Linked DNA regions of Homo sapiens: all the other regions are linked to region 2. Evidence: fine-mapped expression QTL. A gene starts in region 2. Each other region holds a variant in brackets. All regions are shown on one strand. Distances are between the middles of the regions. Region 1 has its middle 87 kb from the start of LPGAT1-AS1. Region 2 holds the start of LPGAT1 (lysophosphatidylglycerol acyltransferase 1). Region 3 overlaps LPGAT1-AS1 (LPGAT1 antisense RNA 1).

The links. PIP is the estimated chance that this variant, and not a neighbour inherited with it, causes the effect.
Region 1: its variant is fine-mapped to the expression of LPGAT1 in whole blood (INTERVAL, PIP above 0.99).
Region 3: its variant is fine-mapped to the expression of LPGAT1 in lung (TOPMed, PIP 0.95).

What each region holds. Positions count from the first base shown.
Region 1 is chr1:211,913,412-211,921,596 of GRCh38, forward strand. No RefSeq gene overlaps it. Among named protein-coding and RNA genes, the nearest start is that of LPGAT1-AS1, 87 kb to the left of the region's middle. RefSeq lists an enhancer at 3,233-3,402. The variant G/A (reference allele first, on the strand shown) is at 4,296.
Region 2 is chr1:211,826,071-211,834,255 of GRCh38, forward strand. LPGAT1 (lysophosphatidylglycerol acyltransferase 1) reads right to left here and starts at 4,693. Exons shown (of 8, transcript NM_014873.3): 1 at 4,503-4,693; 2 at 2,989-3,253. The coding sequence starts at 3,226. LPGAT1-AS1 (LPGAT1 antisense RNA 1) reads left to right here and starts at 4,891. Exons shown (of 6, transcript NR_135820.1): 1 at 4,891-4,970; 2 at 5,186-5,342. RefSeq lists a silencer at 4,118-4,877.
Region 3 is chr1:211,850,604-211,858,788 of GRCh38, forward strand. It overlaps LPGAT1-AS1 (LPGAT1 antisense RNA 1), which reads left to right. Exons shown (of 6, transcript NR_135820.1): 4 at 918-1,003; 5 at 1,100-1,169; 6 at 2,959-3,100. Among named protein-coding and RNA genes, the nearest start is that of LPGAT1-AS1, 24 kb to the left of the region's middle. RefSeq lists a silencer at 4,626-4,805. The variant G/A (reference allele first, on the strand shown) is at 4,793.

The DNA of each region.
Region 1 (8,185 bases), 87 kb after region 2:
AATTCAGGGGAGAAAAAGCAAAACATGCAAAGATAAAGAAGAGAACAACAACCATATTGTAACCTTACCTCTTCAAGATAAGTATTGTTCACATTTTGGTATATATTCTTCCAGGCATTTTCTATGCGTACACACATTCTCTCTCTCTCTCTCTCTCACACACACACTCACATGCAGACATGAACACACAGACACACGTACACATGAACACACACACACACACACACACACACACAAGTGGGATTAAGCATCTGTGGTAAATTAAAAATGACTCCTAATTCTTTGCCACTCCCCGCACTGAACGGTGGGGTCTGTTTCCACTCCCTGTGTATCCAGGCTGGGCCTGAGACTAATCTGTACCAATAGATTGAAGTGGAAGTAACACTGGGTAGCTTCCAAGGCTGGGTCTTGAGAGACCTCAACTTCTGCCTTCATCTCTCGGAGCCCAGCCACCATGTGAGGAGGACTCACTAGCCATGTGAAGAGGCGCACATGGAGGAGAATGGAATCCTGTGGCTGAGAACGCCAGTAAAGCTCCAGATGGTCCCAGTACCAAATGTGAGCTGCCCCAGAGCCCCAGTCAGTACCAAGTGATACAGAACAATCCACAGAATCATGGGAAGTAGTAAATTGTCATTTTAAGCCACTAAATTTTGGGATAGTTTGCTAAAACAGCAATTGATGACTGAAACAACTACACAGAAAAATAGTATTACATCGTGCTTACTATGTGCTCGGCGGTTATAATTTTTAAATACATATTAACTCACATAACCCTTACATTAACCTGATGCAGTAAGTACTATGATTTTATATTATTATCCCCACTTTACAGATGAGGAACCTGAGGTGCAAGTGAGCAAGCAATGGGGCTGGGATTTGAACCTGGGCAGTCCATTAGGATCCATGCTCTAAACCATCTGTGCTCTAAACCATCATATCCCACTGCCTCTCTGCTGCTTCCTTTCATTTAAGACATCACGAACAACTTTAATGTCAAGAAATATCAACCTACAACATGATACTTCAAGCTACATGTTGAAATCTGTTGAAATACTGATTTGAGCTCCAAAGTACTAGCAATCTCTTCTAGTTTGGGGATTATCTTCAGTGGATTTATAGCCTATTAATGTCTTTGAGTGTTGGTAATTTTTCTTTTTTTTTGAGATGGAATTTCGCTCTTGTTGCCCAGACTGGAGTGCAATGGTGCAATCTCAGCTCACTGCAACCTCCACCTCTCAGGTTCAAGTGATCCTCCTGCCTCAGCCTCCCAAGTAGCTGGGATTACAGGTGTGTGCCACCATGCCCAGCTAATTTTGTATTTTTAGTAGAGATGGGGTTTCACCATGTTGGTCAGGCTGGTCTTGAACTCCTGACTTCAGGTGATCCACCCACCTAAGCCTCCCAAAGTGCTGGGATTACAGGTATGAGCCACCACGCCCAGCCTTTTTTTTAGGGTTGAAGTTTTTGAATAAGACAGAACTCAGGAATGAGCCTCCATGCACCCACCTGAGATTTTCCAGAGCAACATCATTCAGTAATAGTCTGTAAGTGTAGATTGTTTAAAAATCTAGTATCTGACCAGTGTTCTATGATCTTAGCCACTTGTTCCCAAGTGCAGGGTGAGAGACAGGCCACATAAGAATAACCTGGTACTTACAAAAAAGTACAGACTCACAGGCCTTGCCCCAGACCCCCGAGTAATAGCATTGCTGAAAATGGAGCCCCGGAATCTGTATTCTAACATCCCTCCATGTGATGCTGATGACAGCTAGGTTTGGGAACCATTGATCTAATCACCATTTCTCCTTCTTATCCATATTGATGGATTTATTGAATCCTCTACCAAATTCCAAGTCCACTAAGGGAATTTGCTAGTGACCATTTGAGAAATGTCCTGGCTCTGCTCTTCACCAGCTATATGATTTCATCTCTGGACATTTTTTATCTGTCAAATAAGGAAGTTGGATTAATTATTGCAGTGGATGCCATGGTGCTGTGGTGAGCCCACACATCCCATCTTCAAGATCCAGTCACTCATTCCCTCAACTGTTGGCAGTGTTGGTTGGCTGCTGCCAGTTCTCAGGTGTTCCAAGTTCACGTTTCCTCCAGGGGTGAAGCCCGTGTCCATTGACTGGTTGATGAGGAAGTATAACCTAACCTCCTACACCCTTGTCTCAAGGTGGGCCAACTGTGAAGAGTTGTCCCATGGGTTTGGCCTGAGACCTCTGTTGCATCTACACCACAGTTCAACCCATCCCTCTGCCCTTGCACTCTCTTCACTCCCCCATAGGTGTGGGTCCCAAGGGCATTCCTCAATAAGCTTCTTGCACACAACCTCTATCTCAGTAGTTTCCTAAGAAACCCACTACCACAATGACTGTTGGCACAATGATCTTTTGCTTCTGACTTGGATTGAGTTGACAGCAAAGATGCCTCTTAGGACCTTTTCAAACACCTTGGGCTCGTTGTTGAGCTTGAAGAGCCTTCTTCTCTTCAGCCTCCTCCCATTCATTCTTCATTCATTGAGCAAACTTATTGTACCCCTACTATGTGCCAGGCCCTAAGCTCAGCTGGGTATTCAGAGACTTGCCTGTGTCTCAAATAGTGGAAAAGAATAAGCACTTAGAAGCTGAATGGCTCCTCTGTCTCTGTGATTTGTTATCACTGTGCTGTTTCCCAAGCTATGGGACTAGTCCATCTTCTTGTCCTGAACTTCACCTAATAGGCCTCTTTATTGCCCTGCCCACGGTTTGTAAGGCCCCTCTCTGTAGTGACTTTAATCTTCCTGACACTATTCTTATGAGTTTGTGTCTTTCTTTCTATTCCCTTTTTAGCTTCCAGGTTCCTTCTTCCAGCTCTTGCAGCCAGCGTGGGCAAGGGCCAACATCAATGTTTTATCCATTTAGGACACTAGTGTCTATTTCAGCCTTATGGGGCTTTCAGTAGTAGAAAATTTGGGGAAAAGGGTCTCAAAACCTTCCAGATGGGCTGGGGCAGAAGTAGGGGCTCAGAGTCCAGTTTCCATCCAATAATCCATGTAGGGCCAACCCACCTCAGGCAAAACTGAAATTAATCAGACATTGCTGCTGCCACCCCTCTTTTGGTCAACTCCAGCCCCTGAGGGTGTTCTTCAGCCCCATCTCCCCATTCGCCTTCACAGATCTGCAGCCTTCCTACTTTATTTTCTGAACACTTCCCCCTTCCTTTGCTGTCAATCATTTTCATTTTTTACTTGAATGAGTCTGAGTCACAATCCACCTTTTCCAGGGATTATCTCATTTTAAGCTTTTTCTTTTTTTTTGAGACAGAGTCTCGCTCTGTCACCAGGCTGGAGTGCAGTGGTGTGATCTTGGCTCACTGCAACCTCCACCTCCTGAGTTCAAGCGATTTTTCTGCCTCAGCCTCCTAAGTAGCTGGGACTACAGACACACACCACCACACACAGCTAATTTTTGTATTTTTAGTAGAGACGAGATTTCACCATGCTGGCCAGGATAGTCTCGATCTCTTGACCTAGTGATCCACCCGCCTCGACCTCCCAAAGCGCTGGCATTACAGGTGTGAGCCACAACACCCAGCCTCATTTTAAGCTTTTTCTTACGCCACGTTGCAACCTGAAAGGCTTTGTCCACTGGACAAAGCATCAACAGACACTTAGAATACAGAGGGCTCTTTTTTAGCCCTTTGCAATCACATGACGTCCAAGGGCTTGTCACTGAACCAATGTAACTATCTAGCACAAGAGCAGAAAGGAATCAAATCCAACACTCTCATTGTATAGATGAGGAAACCAAGGAACAGTGAAGTCAAGCAACTTTCCCAAGGTCATTACCAGAACAAGAAAGGAAGACACCTTCTACAAGGAAAGAGTATACAGATGGTACATTTTAGGAAGGGCACGGCCTGTGGAAGGTGCTAATTTCTAGATGCTACTTTAGAGTATGACTTTGATTGATTACTTGCAAAAGTAGACCTATGCTTGTTAGTTATGCCTCTTTCACCTGCTACTCCTCCACAGTTGGTCAAGACCAAGCCCTAGTCATCCTTATTGATTGAATTAGGAGCAAAATCTAGGTTCTAGTCCTCCTAATTCTACTACTTACAAGTTGCCTCACCTTAGGAACGCCATTTAACTGCTGTCTCCTTATTTTCCCAGTCTGGCCTTGTCCTCACCGTTGTGGGGTATCAGGCAAGATAAAGCACACAAAGTCTCTCTGCATGCCGGAGAGCATTTTGCAGCATGAGGAGATGTTTTCTGCCCCACCTATGTACTAGAATCCTCCAAGGAGCCC[G/A]TAATGTGAGTGTAGGGGTCAGGGGCAGGCTGGTGACTGGATGCTTTTGTTTAAGTTCCACCAGTGATTTTGATGCACATCCAAATGTGGAAACCACTGACAAAGTACAAAAGACAAACAGGAGAAGAGAAATAAATTGTGAGCTAAAGATGCAGGCATGTTTTAAGCTCTCTTTAGAGTGGATAACTAAGGGCCAACTTAGAGAACAATTAAATTGCCCATCTTTTTCAAGGTACCTGAAACCCTAATCTCAAGTCCCTTTTTTCTTCCTGGAAAAGATGTATATGACTTCAATTACATTACTTTTCTTACCTAGCAATCTAAACACACACTGAAGATTTCACACGCACACACACACACACACACACACACACACACACACACTTCGTGAATCATCTCTGCCTGGTTGCATGCTGAAGTCAGATTCCGAGTAATGTCTGTTATTCTTTAACCTCTGAGTAATCACTCTGGCCCTGGTCTGCTCTTTATCGTCCAGGAAAACAATCTGATCAAGCCTTGGATGATGGATTCATAGTTGCTCAAGTCTCCAGAGTGCTGTATAAACCAGACTATTAATTTATTCCATGGGGATATTCTGTGAAAGTCCTACTTCTCCTTTTTAATAATTGAGTGGCCTCGAGCAAGTCACTCAATCTCTCTAGGTCTCTAAGATGATTATGATCACTAAGCATCACTCTTTACAAAGTATTTCCTTCTTTGTGACATCTCTCTTTAAAATGTCAGTTGAATGTTCTCAGAAACTTGTTGCAGTGGGCATAACATTAAAGAAAATGGGTAAGAATGAGAACAATGAATTTAAGGAACATTTCATTCAGTCCATGGGACACCAGAGTGGACAGCTGTGACTTGTGTCTGCTCAGCACTTCTTCTGCTCTTCAGGGGACAGAACTTCCTTCCATGGGGGAACTGCTCCTTTCTTCTTCCACCTGGTTGTGAGGAGGCTGCTGATCAAAGGACCCTGGCCTCCTCTTCTTCGGCCACAGGGGTGGGCATGTGACCCTGATTCAACCGTAATAACAACCTACTCACCTAGCCACAGTGATTGATCTGGGAATTCATCCAAGGATCAATCTGAAAAGAGAGAGAGAGAGAGAAAAGAAGAAAGAAAGAAAGAAAGAAAGAAAGACAGAAAGAAAGAAAGAAAGAAAGAAAAGAAAGAAAGAAAGAAAGACGGAAGGAAGGAAGGAAAGAAAGGAAGGAAGGAAGAAAGGAAGAAAGAAAGAAGGAAGGAAAGAAAGAAGAACAAGAAAGAAAGGAAGAAGGAAAGAAAGAAGAAAAGAAAGAAAGAGAGAGAAAGAAAAAGAAAGAAAGAAAGAAAAAGAAAAAGAAAGAAAGAAAGACAAAGAAAGAAAGAAAAAGAAAAAGAAAGAAACAAAGGGAAAGAAAGAAAAAGCAAGCCAGGGATTTTTCTAAATTAAGCTTGTAGGGAAAAGTATCTTCCCTTTCTGGTCAAGGCGCTTTATCAATATGACCCCATGTGCCACATGAGAAGGCTGGGAGGACAAGGCCACCAGCCAGAAGGAAGAAGAAATGAGGCAGTGAGAGACAGAGATGGAAACAAGGAAAGGGTCTGTGGTGTCGAGTTCCCAGGTCTGACTCTTCCTGGCGTCATCTGGCAATTGTTCTTTTGATTCCTCGAGCTACCCCAGAGCTTTCCCCAAAAGTCACTCTCTCTTTTTTTCTCACTTAGGTCAGTTTGTTTTAGAATTTCTACCACTTGCAACTTAGTCTTGATGAACAGAAACTCTCCGACAGTTTTCCTCTCAACTATACCTTAAAAGAAACGTGGTCCCAAATTTGAGGCTCTATGTCCTCTTGTCACCTGGCCCTTGACGGCAGCCAGTCTTGCCTTGCTTTCTGCAAGCTGCACCTTGTTCACCCACGCCAGGCCAAGCAGTGACTCTCGTGATTCTTCACCTCCCCTTTTCAGATCTTTACTTCCCCACTTTCCCCACTGCATTGTGTAAGATCTCATTCTTATAATAAATACCTTAGTCCATAATAATCAGTGGTTCTGCTTCCATGGTTTGGCCCTGATTAATGCAAATGCTATTGGGTTGGCCCTGACAAAGAAGCTTCCTTCTTCTTATTATTATTATTATTACTTTTTTTTTTTTGAGATGGAGTTTCACTCTTGTCACCCAACCTGGAGTGCAATGGCATGATCTCGGCTCACTGCAACCTCCGCCGCCTGGGTTCAAGCAATTCTCCTGCCTCCTCAGTAGCTAGGATTACAAGCACGCGTCACTAGGCCCCACTAATTTTTTTGTATTTTTAGTAGGGAAGGGGTTTCACCAGGAATGTTGACCAGGCTGGTCTCGAACTCCTGACCTCAGATGATGCGCCCACCTTGGCCTCCCAAAGTACTGGGATTACAGGCGTGAGCCACCGTGCCCAGCCAAAGCTTCCTGCTTCCCTTCTTTGCTTCCTGCCCACACCCCCTCCATCTCTCCATCCGCCCCTCCTCTCCAGTCACCACATCTCCATCTTTCCTCATCCTCTCCCTGCGTCAGTGGGAAGGTCTGATGCAGCCGCTGCTCCTCTTAACCACTATGCTATTTACAGTCTCAAGCCCTCTTCTCTCTGACCTCTGCCTGGTTTCCTTTTGCACTATTTCCTGAGCTCCATTCCCAGTCGCAATTCTGTGTCTGGCAGGCAGCCTGAAGATTTAACACAGGCTGGCACCCAGCAAAGGCAAATGCCAAGATGCCCTGCCCAGAGCTTCCCACTCATTATTTCCAATTAGAAAATGTCACTAGGGAAGAAAACAAATACGCTCAAAGATAACTCAGAGAGCACTGTGTGTTTGTTGCCTGGAATAGATGCCAAATAAATATTTTATCAAAGGAATTTACATAGTAAAACTATTTGAGTTGGAAATTATCCAGGAATACTTTCAAAATGAACATGGTGGTTTTTTATTTTATTTTATTTTATTTATTTTTTATTTTTTGGTAGTATGCATGGATTTGAAATTCCCCCTGGGAGCTGGCTCTGTTTTTGATGAGCTCAAGGTCTCTTCCAGCTCTGTGATGATGGCTCAAAGGCCAGAGCTTCTGATCCCAGCCCAGCCATTGCTCAATGTGAGTCAGCTGAACTCTCTAGACTTTGCCTAGTCTATCTGGATCAATGAAATAATCAGAGAAAAAAAAATCAAAATCATTGTATCTTAGGCTTGGAAGCAACCTTACAGGTTATCCCTAATTAAGGAAGCTGGCTGTTGTCTGTCTCCATCCAACCCCTCTGGCTTCGCCAGACCCGTCACTTAGCTGGGACCCCGTGGCCATACAGTATTGTCTTCTCTCAGCAGGCAGATGCTGGGTATGGTGACTCAGGCCTCTGTCCAAGAGTTGGGACAAGTGTCTAATGCAGAATTTTCTTCATGTAGAATTAGACACTGTAAATCTTAAAAGGACATTGTTACCCAGGTTGACATGGGACATGTGAGAGGAAGAATAGGCCAGGCGCAGTAGCTCACACCTGTAATCCCAGCACTTTGGGAGGCCAATGTGGGCGGATCACGAGGTCAGGAGTTCAAGACCAGGCTGGCCAACATGGTGAAACCCCATCTCTACTAAAAATACAAAAATTAGCTGGGCGTGGTGTTGTGTGCCTATAATCCCAGCTACTCGGGAGGCTGAGGCAGGAGAATCACTTGAACCAGGGAGTCAGAGGTTGCAGTGAGCCAAGATCGCGCCATTGCACTCTAGCCTGGTGACAGAGCGAGATGCTGTCTCAAAAAAAGAAAAAAAAAAGAATAATGTATTGGAAACAAGAATGAAGCAGGTAGCTACTGTTCTTAGGCACCTAGTATGTGCTACACAATTTATATCTATGTTAACATTTAGTCCTCACAACCACCAAGGAGG
Region 2 (8,185 bases):
TCAGAAACAGACCAGAAAATCCCTTTTCCATCTTCTGTGCCTACAGACAGTTCCCCAGCTCTGAGAATGCAAACTAAAGTATAAGAATGTTCATTTAAGTTCTTGGGCTTACTGGCCTCACCATTACTCATCCAAGAAGCATGTATGAATTTACAGGGCTCATTTTTGTGATGAGTTAAGAGATAGTTTAATAAAACTTTAATAAATCTTCTTGTCTTTCACAAAAAAAATCTGTTTAGAACTAAGGAAAGATTTTTTAATAAAAATAAAATTTAGTTTTCCTAAGAAAAGAAAACCATGCTTACTATATCAGCTTTGTCCAGTAGTACTTGCTGTGATGATAGAAGTGTTCTGTATCTGCACTGTCCATACAGTAGCCACTAGCCACCTAGTACTGAGCACTTGAAATGTGGTTGGTGTGCCTGAGGAGCTAAATGCTAAATTTTATTTCATTTTAATTAATTTAAATTTAAACAGTGACATGCAGCCAGTGGCTACTATATGGGGCTGTGTAGGTTAGATAATCAACATAAGTCCTCATCAGCAGAGCTGAGTAATTCACTCATATTACACGGAATGTCATAATTTGGAAAAAGATATATATATATATATATATTCATTCTATACCAATATACCAATATTCAATTTTTAGCTTCCTAATTAGTATTTAAGGTTTCCTCATAAGTGGTTTCTCAACAAAGTTTTGGCAATTTTTATTCTAAAACATGAACATACTTAATCTGCTGAGCAGAATTCCTTTGGCAATGTTCAATTTTCCATCTGTGAAACTTGGGCATAGGGAAAAAAGAACTTCTTCACAAGCCCACCCTCCTATTGATGTAAAGGGAAGAAGTGAAATATATTATCTAAAGAAAGGCTAATATAACACCTGACATTATTTTATGGGTACACCTGTTCATCAACCTCTGCTTAGATGTGCTTCTTTAAACTCAGCTGAGGCTTTCAACCAAATTCATTCCTACATTTGTTTGACTTCTTGACTATTTTCTTTTATGATCAGACTATGACCAGGCTCTCTGAAATCAAGTATTCTACCTATAGGAAAACCTTTTAAAATATATACATTAAAACAGTCTATATTTAAATGAGACAAACTGATCAAATTGTCAAAATTCAGTAGCCTGAAGAAGAGCAGATGCTTCAGAGAGACTAAAATATGCAGATCATGCCAAGACCACATTCCAAGCAGGTGGCAAAAGAAATTACACAGTTCTATAGTCAGCAAGGAAGAGATACCCCAAGAAAATATGCTGAAAAATACATTGCAGCTATGCTATGGCCATAGGACAACTAACTTTGACTTCAAGCAGCACCACTGCACTCCCAATCTCAAGGTCAATGCCAAATTAATTTTACCTTCCCACCATGCTAACAATTAAATACACTATACACACGCACAAACATTTCAGTAATTTCATTTTAAGCAGAATGAACTTCTAGAACGGGTTTCTGAAAATACTATAAGCTAATTTAAAACAAGCAAACTTAAGTATACTATACAAGAATAAAGCCACTAGTACCATATAACATATATTTGGGAACACTCAAACTATACCAAGCCAAGCAACTCTAAGACAGCAGTGCAATTCAGGTAAGAATTCAGCACCATAGATTAGAACTTCGTTTTTTCTCTACCACTGCTATTGCTACCACCAAGTCCTAAAAAAGGGCTAGAAGCACACCTACTATATCCAAAAAGCATTGGAATCTCAACAAGACAGATGACAAGGAAGCAACGCATACACTATCCCAGGGGCTTCAGCTCTTGCATTATTATGCCACTGCCTGAAGGAGAAATAAATAAATAAATGCCACTGCCTGAAGGAGAAAAGGCTTCATCTGGGGCAACTGAGAATACTCAGACATAGCAAGGGTCTGTCAGACTCCATAAAAGCTGTATACTATCAGTCCTTCTCTTGCGTGTGTGGATAAAATGTGCAGGTGCAGCCTAGGCAGGAAAGAGGGAGACAGAATTTCAGATGGAGAACTGCCATACTGCTTGACCCTGGGAGTACCCCTCCTCACTCTGCCAAGCTATGAACTACAGCCTCTACTGACCACAGCATCTGCATGATCTTCAAGGAGCCTGCCTATCAGGTAGGAATTTCTGTGCTAAAAGCCTCCACATCTGACAAGTGCTAAAAACCTCTATGATTTTTTCATTATCTTAATTCTTAAGGGAAAAAAATCAAATAAATACAATAAACGATACAGAATTTTCACAGCAAGGGCATAAGTTCTCAAAGCATATAAGGTTTATCTCAGAAAATAAACACTTCTCATTTAGTTCTATAAAAGTCCACTTCTGAATAGTGTTACTCTTGCTTCCCCAAATGCAATTTAAAGGCAGAAATCACAATCTATTTAAAGACACTCAGAAGATAAATTAGCTTAACAAAGTTAACTTAATTTTTTATATTTAATACTCTCAGATTTATGAGATAAAATATAGATTCTAATAAACAAAAGAAACATACGTAAGAGAAAAGAAAGCCATTTTTGCTTGCTCAAAAGGCTAACAGTACAATATCACGTTAAATGATGAAGAAACTTATTAAACTATCTTAGCACAAATATGGTCCCATTCTTTTTCTAAATTTCCAATGTTTATGGGCATCTTCCATGAAATAGATGAAATATCTTACATCTTCACTTTATAAGCTCTCGAGTCCTATACAACGCACTCCTATTCCTCTACCAGAGCTTTTGCAGACCAGTTTTAATAAATGTATGTCAATCACAATAAAAACACTAAGAAATTTACCAATACATAATTATGAAATTATACTTCTGAAAACATTGGTCTTCCTGAGATTCTGAAGAGAAACCCAATAGAACTGTTTTCTTTTTATTTTTTTCAATAGTGAAGACATGAAAGCATCCTCAACCCAAAGTGTAATATACATTTAATCATGGTTCCTGACAAATTTTTTCTTATGCATTAAAGAAAAGTGTTCTCACTCTTACCTGTATATCCAGCATACCATCCCCAGGAAGCTACCATTCCTAAAAGCCATTTATACATGATTCCTTCGATATACCAGAACCGCTTACTGTCCAGCACTCGAAGGGGCTGAAGTATAATTACATAGCAGATGTAGGATGGAATAGCAACCAGGTTGTTGACGACCATGAAGGCAAACCTCATCAGTGCTTTCACCAAGAGCCAGCCCAGCCACGGAGCTTCTTCCAAAGTTATAGCCATTCTCACACTGGACTCCGTCCTGTCTTTCTGGGGTGAAAGAAAAATTCACTTAAAAAGGAAAATTCATTAAATACATCTAAACAGTCACCAACATAGAAATCGCCCCCAGCACAAAATAAAACAGCGAGGGTCGAAGCTTTCCGGGTGTAGTACCTCGGTGATCTCTCAGGGGAAATTCCAGAGGGGGACAGAGAGCGAGGGAGGAGGAGCCGCACAAGGTCAAGGGAGCTGTTCACCGAGGCACGAAGTATGTCACAATATATTTAGCAAATGATAACACAATTCCCATTCAGTAATCGGTGGCCGTCCCCGCACCGTGTCTCACTGCGGTCGTCTATTGGACTTAGAAAAATAGATCCACTCGCTTCAGACAACCTCAGGATCTCCAAACTGAAGACACAAGTGACATGACCGAAACAGGGTCCCCTCAATAAGATTTCCCAGATACTGAGGACCTCAGTCTCCTCACCACCACGATTCCTGCACACCGATGCATTCCTTTAAAAGGTCTCTGGCTCTAGCGAAGAGTTACCCTCAAAATTCTCATTTGTAGCAATAGGGTTTTTGTTTCCCTTTTTTTTTTAAGAAAAAAAATGGGGGGCCTAGAAAAAAAGCTTACAAGGTGAGAGGAAGAAAGTAGGGGGTTATAATGCGAAAAAGAGGAAGGACAGGAGTAGGGGGAAGGGAGCAAAAGCCAGAAAGAGGTAAAAGCCAAGGAACTGGGGATGAAGAGAATGAGATTTCCGACCAGAGGGCAAGGAAGCAGGGGATGATGAAAGGGGCAGAGAAGAGGCGACCGCAGCGCGGGGAGCCGGTGGAGCCTGCAGCGGTTTCCGCGGATGTGGAAGGGTCGTGGCGGCGGGCGCGGCCCGCGCGCCGGGCTCACCTCGGCGGGCGCGGACGGCGGGCGGCTGCGGAGAGCGGGGGCGGGTGTCCCCCGCCGAGGGGTCGCGGTCATGGACGCGGTGGCGGCCCAAGCGGCCCGAGGCGCTGCGCGAGCGGGCGCGCTGGCGCCCTACTCCCCTCGCGGCTGCCTGCGGACAGAGGGACGGCGGGGACTCAGAGGCCGGACCTGTCACCCGGGCGGGTCCCGGGGAGGCGGGCGGATGCCCCGCGCCCCCGCCTCCTCCCCGGGGCCTACCGCGCCCTCGTCCCTCAGGCCGCTGCCGCCTCCCCGGGCCACGCGACGACGACACCCCCTTCCCCGCCCCCAGCGCCTCCCCTGGCCCGGCTCCGCTGCCGCTCTGGGGCCTGCGACCGCGGAGCCGGAGGTTACCTCGGGCTGGCCGGGCCCCAGCCGGGGCTTTGGGAGTCAGAGGAGCCGGAAGAATGCATGGCCGGCGGCGGGGCCGGCGGAAGAAGGCGGTGGCGGGGCCCTGCCCCGCTCCGGCTGTGGCGCGGCCCGCGCCCGTTCCCCGGCGGCGCCGAGACTCGGTCCCCAAGGGCCCGGCCGCGTTCGCCCGGACTGGCGGGGAGGGGCGGCGGGAGGAAGCGGCGGGAGTCGGGACTGCGGCGGAGCCGCTCCCACAGCGCCCTCTAATGAAAGCGCCGCCGCCGCTGCCTGGCCCGCTTGCCCCGCCTGGCCCGCTCCCCCTACCCCTGCGCCAGCGAGTCGGGGCCCTCGGGGCTACCTGGACGCTCGGCCAGGACCTCAGTGAGTCCAGAACATACTGAGGGAAAGGGCCGCTCGGAAAGATCTAGGAATGAACACCCATCCTCACACCCCAGGAGTGCCTTGGTTTCAGTTGAGAGCCCCCTTTCAGCCAACACGGCCGCCTTTCATTGTTAGGGCTCTCTTCTCTGCCCAAACTAGGAACCTGTCTCCTTGACGGCTAAATGTCCACTTTTCATTCTTAATGAAACCCGGTTGCACTCATGGCTTTTCTTCTTAACCTCTGCAGTGTATTATTGTCTAGAGTTTCAAATTCATTCTTTTTACGGTCAAAAGTCTTGTTTCAGGAAAGCAGCTGGAACATTAATGGCAATTCCACTTTCCCATTCATCGCCCCCGCCCCCACCACCCCACCAAGAAACTCAGTGGGAATGAATGGTCTACACAGAGAAACTGAAATCTGGTTAGTCAAGAAGGAAAAAACAACCAAGTGCCTGGCATTAAGTAAGTACTCACCCGCCCGCCCTCCCCCGCCCGCCATAAAAAGAAAAACCGAAAAGACAAAAAACAGTGGCCATGGGAACTCCTAGACAGACCCCGTCACTTGGGATACTATAGCTGCATTCTGGTTCAAAGGCTGGACCACCTGAAGGAAAATAGAGAAATAGTCCATTGACCTACCCCCTTGAGCATTCTTAAATGATCTGCCTAAATTTTAGTTTTTAAAAATCCTGTTTATAAAACCTTATGTCCCTTAAGCACATTTGTAAATGGAGGGGATGGGGCAGGGCAGATTTCACACTCCCTAGGGAACTGCCATATTTGAATCAGAATGCCACCTATTCTGCCTATTTTGAAAATGTTCATCACAGCGTTTGCTCTGGACTCTCAACTTTCTCTAATTTCAGTTCCTCTTAGGTCCACAGGTGAAGGAAAGATATGCCCCATTCTATTCCTTGCATTCTCTCTTTATTGACAAGGTAGTAAGATCTTTAAATAAATCTCATGAGAGAGATAATATATATACTTTATTATTCAAAATATGTCATTATATTCTTCAGTAAGATAGGTGAGGTACATATTTATTTCCACAATCAAGAATAAACTCTAAGGATTCCATCTGGTCCATGCAATTCAGCTTTCCCACATGCTGCGTAAACGTTGGCTGACACCTGGAGAGAGATAACCTACAATGGGATTTACACGTGATTCCTGGATCAGGGACCATCTGCCAGAGGACCAGACACAGCAGCACTTGATGAAATGCAATTAGTACCAGGCCCAGAATTCATTTTCAGGCTCAGAAAAGAGCCAGAGGTTGGGCAGGACCTCTGGCTCTTTAGTGTACAAAAACAACACTTGAAGTGTCTACCAAAGAGACAGATTCTTCAGCATCATACCAGAACATTTTAATAATCTAGGTCCAGTGGACCTGAGAACCTGCTTTTTAAAAAGCGTCATAGGTGATTCTGATGCAAGTAGTATGCAGACCTTGCTTTAAGAAACCCTGACTTAGAGGTATTCTGAGATGATCACATTCTCTTCTAGACCCTTCATAATTTTAAATCATTTGATCATATGTGTTCTCATGTGTGTTAGTCAGCTAGAGCTGCCATAACAAAATACTGCAAACTGGGTGGCTTAAACAACAGAAACTTATTTTCTCGAAGTTCTGAAGGCCAAGATCAGAGATCAAAGTGTGGGGAGGTCTGGTTTCTTCTGAGGCCTGTCCCCTCGGCTTGCTGATCACCATCTCTCATTGCAGAATTCTGCCATTTCAGTACCTCCTTATGGAAGGAGTAGGGAATACCTAATCTCCTTGATCTTTTCAGATATCCTCATATTAACTGCTTCCAACCTCATTGGACTTTTCTTGAAACTCAACCAACAGTACAACACATTATGTTCCAGGTATAGATATGCCCTGGTTTTGTGCCAAGAGTGTAGGAGAGGGGTTATCTTCTTAACTTTCTGACCACAATATCAGTTTCAAGATAATTCAGCTGCTATAATAGATAAGAAACTGTTAGGGCTGACTTCTTAAGGGAACAATTTCAGATGATGCTTGTGTTTATTTCTTGCATTTCGAAGTTCGTTTTAGTTAGTTTTACCTTCCTCTTGCCTATACTACAATTTTTTTGCCCTGCCTCCTTTCAACCACTTAGGAAGCCTCCTGAGATTGTTCCATAGCCTATTTTATTGCACCATGGACAGAGAGATGTATGAATGCTCTGAATGACTGTAACAGGAAGATTGGAACAGCCAGTTCTCCAGGGTAGACTGTTCTGTGGAAAACAAGGATCTTCTTCAATGACTAGTTAGCTTCTAGTCCCCTATCCTGCTACCTTAGAGCCATCTTTATCAAAACACAAACATGAAGCCAACAATTTCAACACCTTCATGTACACTCCAATAGAGAAAAGAGGGAAATGAACAGACCCCACCCTATAGCCACAGACATTATTGTTTCTGTTTCAAAAGCCCACATTTGAACCACAAGAGAATGGTCCTTTGAAAAAGAAAGAGGATTTCTTACATTTCTTGGAATCGCCAGTCATTTGAAAGCAATATAACCACAATACCTTAGAAGGTTGAATTCCACCCATCTAGTCCACATACACACAACAAATTAGGTTATAACCAGGGAGAGGTTCCCTTGGGCAGAAGAGTACCCCCTGGGCCCTCTCTTTTTCCTAGTGGCAATTATAAAAACATTTTACCTACCTGTGTTGGTTTCTGCACTAAAGCTCCAGTGAACTATTTCCTGTCTAGGGAGAAACCCTACCAGCAATAACCTTCAATGACTTGGCACAGGCCCCCTACATTGCTAGGAAACAGTTGCAGGCTTGAAATCAGCAGCCCAAAAGAGTCATGCATTCTGACTGTTGTCAGCTTTAACTTCAAACAAAAAATGGAAATATATATGGATGTTCTCTTCTATATTCATGTCAATAATTATTTTATATAAAATGCTCCAGGGCTTATAACCTTAAAATTTTTCAGATAGGGTGAGCCAAATCATCCACACTTGGCTGAGTGTGGTGGCTCACACCTGTAATCCCAACACGTTGGGAGGCTGAGTCAGGCAGATCACTTGAGGTCAGGAGTTTGAGACCAGCCTGGCCAACATGACGAAAACCTGCCTCTACTAAAAATACAAAAATTAGCCGAGCGTTATGGCACCCGCCTGTAATCCCAGCTACTCGGGAGGTTGAGGCACGAGAATTGCTTGAACCTGGGAGACAGAGGTTGCAGTAAGCCTAGATCATGCCACTGTACTTTAGCCTGGGCGACAGAGCAAGACTCTGTCTCAAAGAAAAAAAAAATCCTCCAGACTTGACTGCAAC
Region 3 (8,185 bases), 25 kb after region 2:
CATAGTAAGTTTTAAATCAGGATGTGTGAGTCCTCCAAATTTATTCTTCTTCTTCAAGATTGTTTAGCTATTCTGGGTCCCTTGAATTACCATATTAATTTTAGGATCAGCTTGTTGATTTCTGTAGAGGCCAGATGGAATTATGATAAGGATTGTGTTATATCTATAGTGCCCTGGGGAGTATTGCCATCTTAACAATATTAAGTCTTTTCATTCTTTTGTCTTCTTTAACAATATTTTGTAGTTTTCAGAGTACAGGTTTTATACTTCTTTTATTAAATTTATTCCTAAGTATTTTAGTCTTCTTGATGCTGTTGTATATAGAATTGGTTTCCTAATTTCATTTTCACAGTTTTCATAGCAAGCATATGGAAATATAATTAATTTATGTATATTAATCTTGTATCCTTCAACTTTGCTGAACTCATTTATTAGTGCTCATGGTTTTTAAGTGGATTTCTTAGGATTTTTTATATAAGATTATGTCACCTGCAACCTGAAGGTTCTTATGGAGGATTACAACAACTGTGCTGTCGTGGGGCTAAGCTGGGGGTGCTTCATCAATCTTTTCAAAATAGTGGTGTGTTTTTTGCCGAAAGCTTTTCATTTTTCTCATTAGAAAAGATGAATCTCTCAACAAAAATTATTACTAACTCTTTATATATTACATTTCAGCTGGCCACCGCTGAAAAAACACGTTTTTACTTTTTACTGCAAGGGTTGCACTTATCAATCTGCACAAACACATGAAAGCACATGAGGTCATGATTCCAACAAACTTTCAGTATTGATCTCTTTTATTCAGGAGGCATTGTGGTTTATGGAAGAGCTTGGCTTGTGGAATTGGGAGGCTGGTTTTCAATCCAAATCTATCCATATTATCAGTGAGACTAATGCTCACCCAACTCAATTCACAGGCTTATTGTTGAAAGTCCAGTGAGCTACCTCAGGCTTTTCTCTGTGGAATGACTGTTGCAGAGAACTGCACCTCAGAAGAATGGAGGTACCAAAAGAGGCTGAGCTGTACCCTGGGCAATGCTTACTTTTTATTTTAGTCAAGTCACTTCCTGGGTTTCATCGGGGACAATTCCTTTCCTAGTTTAAAACTGTGATGACATTCTACCTCATTGAAGAAATCCTCCAGTGCCAAGGGTGGATCTCTAAAGAAGGTATACCCATATCTCACCCAGCTTGGTACCTGCAGGCTGAAGAGTATCTAAGGTTCTGCAATGGGAAAATCATAGTAGTGCTCAGGAAGAAACAACAGGCTGTATAGCCTTATCTTAGTCACAGAGCCAAGGCTTTGTCACCAGGATGGAAGATTAGCAGGGGGAATTTTATGCCTATCATAATGTTCATTGTATTAGCTGCACCACTCCTTCCTTCCTTAATATGCAATTAAAGGCTGACTTTAAAAGAGATAAATAACATGTCAATTTTATGATAGCCAAAGCCAATAACCTTACCATGTGGTTTCCTAGCAAGGCTCAAAAGCAGAGTGGCAAAAGTATGGCCCTAGAGTCAGATTGTCCTTGGGTTCCAATCCTGGCTTTATCCCTTAATAGCTATATGACCTTGGCAATGTATGTAATCCCATTTCCTTAACTGTAAGGAGTATAATTATAGCAATTCATAGGAATTATTGCAAGAATTGAATAAAATATATATCGTTCTTACCACATGATAAACACATGATACATTTTAGCTAGTAGTAGTATTCTTCAAGGCATTTAGTTGATTAAGCTAAGAAAATGCATTGGCTTGAAGGAGGGCAGGTGGACAATTAGAAAATTTTTTTTTCTTTTTAAGATAAAAAATTTAAAAGATAAGAAATGGAATAAAGTTTAAAAGGTTTCAAGTTTTAAAATCTTTTTCAAAAAGAAAAGAAAATGCATTGGCCAGTGAAAGCATTATAATTATGATTCTTTCGTTTGTTTCTGAGACAGGGTCTCTCTGTGTTGCCCAGGCTGGTCTTGAACTTCTGGGCTCAAGGGATCCTCCCTCCTCGGCCTCCCAAAGTGCAGGGATTACAGGCGTCAGCCACTGTACCCAGCCACATTATAACTGATTTTTTTTTTTTTGAGACAGAATCTCGCTGTGTTGCCCAGGCTGGAGTGCAGTGGTGCAATCTCAGCTCACTGAAGCCTCCGCCTCCCGCGTTCAAGCAATTCTCTTGCCTCAACTTCCCAAGTAGCTGGGACTGCAGGTGTGTGTCACCACACCCAGCTAATTTTTGTATTTTCAGTAGAGATGGTGTTTCACCATATTGGGTAGGCTGGTCTTGAACTCCTGACCTCACGTGATCTGCCCACCTCAGCCTCCCAAAGTGCTGGGATTACAGGTGTGAGCCACCACACCACAACTGATTTTTAATTGAAGTACACTCCCAATGTTTTTCAAACTTTAGTATACATTAAAATCACCAAGAATGTTTTTGTAAATGAAAATTTCCAGGCTCTAACCTCTCCTGTCCACACTCCCTGAATTTCTGATTCAGTAGTCAGTGGCAGGTCCCATGAATCTGCATCTGTAGCAAATACTCCAGTATTCTGATTCAGGTGATTCATGGATACTTTTTAAAATTAACTTTTAATTTTGATATAATCTCAAATTTACAGAAAAGTTGGAAAAACAACCCCAAATTTTTCACATATGCTTTACTAAGATTCATCAATTTTAAATATTTTGCTATATTTGCTTTATCAATGTTTGTCTCTGTCTATAAAAATGTTTTCCTAAATTATTTGAGAGTAGGTTGCATATCATCTCTATAGCCTTTAAAACTTCAGTGTATATTTCCTAAGAATAAGGATATTCTCTTTACATAACCACTGTTCAGTTATTAAATTCAGTGAATTTAACATTAATAAAATACCTATATCTAATATATAACACATATTCCAATTTTATTGATTGTCTCAATAATGCCTTTTATAGCTACTTTTTTTTCCCGTACAGGATTCAATCCAGGATCACATCTTATATTTACAATAACATGCCTTTTTTCTCCTTCAGTCTGGAACCGTGTCTCAGTCTATCTTTGTTCTTTATGACATTGACATATTTTAAAGAATAAAAGCCAATTCTTTTATGCACCATCTCTTATTGTGTGTTTGGCTGATGTTGTCTGTTGATTAGATTCAGGTTATGCATTTCTGACTGGAATCATACATAAATGATGTCCTTTTCAGAGTGTTGTCTCTGGAGACACATGATATCCACATGATATCTTCTTGGAGAGACAAACCACACTTAAGAAATATTTGACTACTTCGAGAGATATTTGACTTGCCACTTTCTGCTCCAAGAGGCCTCAGAATCTAAAGTAGTCAAAAAAACAAGACTTCTCTCCTGAATGTTCTGATTGATTGTAATTTGTTAAGGGGCTTATTTAACCATTGCCTAATTACTTTAGAATATGATCACATATTAACCACAGCTGCTATTACATTCAAAACCACAACACACCTTCATATTTATTAATAACTTATGCAGTTTCCCACCTTTCCCCCCAACCATTTCATTCTTAGTAACTCTGGATCATAACATTTATTTCATGGTTAATACAGGTAATCTATGTGATGTTTCATATGACATGACTAAATCAGTTAATGCATATGTCAGTTATGTCATATGACATAACTAAATCAGTTAATGATGGTATTTTGAAGCTAGTAGAAACCACTTAATTCCTTACATCACACATTTTACAATGTGTAAGCTTCCTCTTCAATGGTGTGTTTGGAAATATTCACTTATTTTTTGTTTAATCCTAAAATATACTTATCCATGAACTGCAATTTATATTTTATCATATCACTTAAATTTCCCTGTAAAATTTTTAGCCAGCTGCCTCAGTGTACCTACTGCATTGCAGACTATATATTTCTCTTGGAATTCAGTCATTCATTTACCTGAAAAAGTTCAAAGACTGAAGAAGAATATGATTTAAGTCTTAAAGAAGCTAGCATTTATTGAGTACTAGCTTTATGCCAGCCACTGTTGAAATGGGAATTCCCTTGTCCCCCTTGCAGGGCGTGCGATGGGAGTGTGGCTTGCTTCTTCAGTGCACCACTGCACAAACTTCTAGGGGAGCATACAGACGGGCAGGCTGTGGGGCTCCAACCTCAAGGCAGTGTCCAGCAGTGAATGTTTACAGCTGAAGCCCCAGTGGGTGTGTGTTACAGGGTGCTCTTTTAGTTTTGCCACCTATAGGCGGCTTGTGTTAACCGGCTCAATTAGACCCTCTAACTTGTCTCAAGGACAGAGGGCTTTCTGTATCCTGGGTTCTTGCCTTGGTGTACTGGATGAATTGGATCACACGTGGGCTTGGAGAATGAGTGCAAGGTTTTATTGAATGGAAGTAGCTCTCAGCTGATGGGGGAGCCAGAAGGGAGATGGTTTTCCCCTGGAGTCTGGCCGCTGGGCAGCCCCAGATCTCCTCCAACTGCCCCAGGCAAACCTCCTTCTCATCCCGCCTGTCGATGGCCTATCGGCATGCCAACATCTATTGATGTGCTCTTCTGCCAGCATGCTCCCCTTGACATCTTTTCACCATCCAGCCACTTGTGTCTTCTTCCACTGACGTGCTCCTCTTGATATCCTGCCGCCTGTGTCTGCCTGCTAGGGTCTCGGGAGTTTTTATAGGCACAGGATGGGGTTGTGGCAGGCCAGGGTGGTCTTGGGAAATGCAACATTTGGGCAGGAAATGCCTGTCCTCACTTAGGTCCATGGGGGTGGAGCCCTAGCCAGGGACGAAGCCCTCCTCTACCTAGCACTTCCCTTCCCCCAC[G/A]CCCATTCCATATCCTTTAAAGGGTCCATGCTCTTCCCTTCCCAGCACTTCCATACCACTATTACATATTACCTCACACCAACCAGAGAGGAATGTTTTTGCTACCACCATTTTGCAGACAAAAGAACAGAACTAAATAATTTGCTTAACACCAAACAGCTAACAAATGATACAACTAGGATTTAACCCTAGGTCTGATGAACTCTGAATAAACTCTTTCTGGCTACCTCCCATAAAATCGCAATGGTAAGGATAGAGTGAAAAGATTAAATTCACAAATTTCAGAATTCCATAATTAGGGCATGCAATCTAAAGTCAGATGAAATGGAAATGCAACTTAAAGTCAGATGAAAATATTACCTTACTAAATGGTCAGGAAATGGTAAGGAATTTTTTTTTTTTCAGTTGCAAGATTTAATAGAGTGAAAACAGAGCTCCCATACAAAGGGAGGGGACCCAAAGAGGGTAGCCGTTGCCGGCTCGAATGCCTGGGTTTATATCCCAATCATTGTCCCTCCCGCCATGCTCTCAGGCAACAGATGATTGGCTATTTCTTTACCTACTGTTTTTGCCTAATTCGCATTTTAGTGAGCTCCCTTTACTATCTGATTGGTTGGGTGTGAGCTAGGCTAGGGATTCTTAGTCGGCCTAGGAAATCCAGCTAGTCCTGTCTCTCAGTTCCCCCTCTCAACAGGAAAACCCAAGTGCTGTTGGGGAGGTTGGCCAACGACTGCTCTAACTGCTTCCTGCTGAATTGGGGCATAGTAGGGGCTGTGCAGTTGAGATTTCCTTGGGAGGGGTGCCTTCGATGTCATTAACATCGGAGCATGGGCTAGCAGGCCGGTCCAGGGGTCCGCAGTAGATCTTAGTCGTGGACTGCATCTGGAGCTCCATTTGAAGAACCATTTGTAGTTGCACAGCTTCGATTCTGGAAGAGACAAACTTAACAAGGAGGTTAAAGACACACGGTCCAAAGAGGAGTAGCAATATTATAGCTGCTAGAGGTCCTAAGAAGGGGAGAATCCAGGGCATCCATCGGCTGAGGAGGCCCCAGGTCCAGTGTTTTGAAGCTCCTCTGCTCTACATTGTATTCGATCTCGAATTTCGTTAACTTTCTCTCGGTGACGATTCCGGATTGATTAACATAATAACAGCATTCTTCCCCTAAAAATAAACAGGTTCCCTCTCTTTTGGCAGTTAGCAAGTCTAAAGCTCTTTGATTTTGAAGGACTACTGCTGCTAGGGAGTTAAGTTGATCTTGCAAGGTGACCAGGGAATTGGTGACCCGTTCCATGTCATCATTTAGTTCTTGAGATAGTTTGTAGTAGAACTGAGTAGAGGTTGTGGTACCACCAATGCCAGTACCTAGTCCGCCTAGCACTCCTGCTCCGATAACAAAAGGAAGAATGGGCACTCTTTTGTTGCAGGGCTTAGGTGCAACATGATTGTATAAATCTTGTTCAGTGTAGATGGTCATGCGGGCACTAAGAATGAGAGGAAGCACATAGATTCTGAAGAGCCATTCAAACGATAGGCTGAGGTACCACAGACAAAAAATATTCCTGAGGATAAGCAGACTATTCCTGTGGGAGGAGTTACCCACCTTATGCATTGGGAGTTGGTTCTATCTATAGTATTGCTAAATTTTATAGAGATGAGGTTTGAGGTATGGGTTATTTCCAGATTGGAAACAAGAGGTCCTACTAAAACGGAAGTAGTGTTTATTTTTGTGCTGGAGTTGTTCCATTGTTCAGGTACAGGGATTGAAATGTATGGCCTGAAGTGCAGGGGGAGGCACATCCAACAGTTAGTAGGGTTTTGGGATGAGGATAAGCCAGTATAGGCTGGATACGTTCCTCACTGAGGGCCCTGGTGCCTTTGGATAATTTTAGCTGTAAGTATTTAACCTGTTGTGAGCAGAGCTGAGCCTTTGGTTTGGAAACCTGTAGCCACAGGTGGCGAGGAAATTGAAGAGTGCTTGGCTGGCTTGATGGCACAAGGTTTCTGAACAGGCGGCTAAAAGTAAATCATCCATGAACCGAAGGACAAGAGTGTCCAGGTACGAAAACTGGCTCAAGTCTTGGGCTAATTCTTGGCCACATAGATGGGGGATATCCCTGAATCCTTGGGGTAAAACAGTCCAGGTGAGTTGAGACGTTGGGTTTGAAGGATCTTCAAAGGCAAACAAGAATTGAGAGTCAGGATGTACAGGGATGCAGAAAAAGGCATCCTTAAGGTCCAGGACTGTAAACCACTCTGCTTCCTCTGGTATTTGGGAGAGCAGAGTATAACGATTAGGGACAGCTGGGTATAGAGGGACAACGGCCTCACTGATAATCCTGAGATCTTGCACTAACCTTCACTGTCCGTTGGGTTTCTGTACTACTAAAATTGGAGTATTGCAGGGGCTATTGCATGGTTTTACTAGGCCTTGCGATTTTAGGTCCTTAACAATTTTTTGGAGTCCTTGTTGGGCCTAAGCCTACAAATTATTCAATGATGTCCATTATAACACAGGGAAAGGAAGAAAATCCTACTGCCTTTCTGGAGAGACTAAGGGAGGCATTGAGGAAGCATATCTCCCTGTCACCTGACTCTATTGAAGGCCAACTAATCCTAAAGGATAAGTTTATCACTCAGTCAGCTGCAGACATTGGGAAAAAAACTTCAAAAGTCCACCTTAGGCCCGGAGCAAAACTTAGAAACCCTATTGAACTTGGCAACCTTGGTTTTTTATAATAGAGATCAGGAGGAGCAGGCGGAACGGGACAAACGGGATAAAGAAAAGGCCATCGCTTTAGTCATGGCCCTCAGGCAAGCAGACTTTGGAGGCTCTGGGAAAGGGAAAAGCTGGGCAAATCAAATGCCTAACAGGGCTTGCTTCCAGTGTGGTCTACAAGGGCACTTTAAAAAAATTGTCCAAGTAGAAGTAAGCCGCCCCCTCGTCCATGCCCCTTATGTCAAGGGAATCACTGGAAGGCCCACTGCCCTAGGGGACGAAGGTCCTCTGAGTCAGAAGCCACTAACCAGATGATCCAGCAGCAGGACTGAGGGTGCCCAGGGCAAGCGCCAGCCCATGCCATCACCCTCACAGAGCCCTGGGTATGCTTGACCATTGAGGGCCAGGAGGTTAACTGTCTCCTGGACACTGGCGTGGCCTTCTCAGTCTTACTCTCCTGTCCCGGACAACTGTCCTCCAGATCTGTCACTATCCGAGGGGTCCTAGGACAGCCAGTCACTAGATACTTCTCCCAGCCACTAAGTTGTAAATGGAGAACTTTACTCTTTTCACATGCTTTTCCAATTATGCCTGAAAGCCCCACTCCCTTGTTAGGGGGAGACATTCTAGCAAAAGCAAGGGCCATTAGACACCTGAACATAGGAGAAGGAACA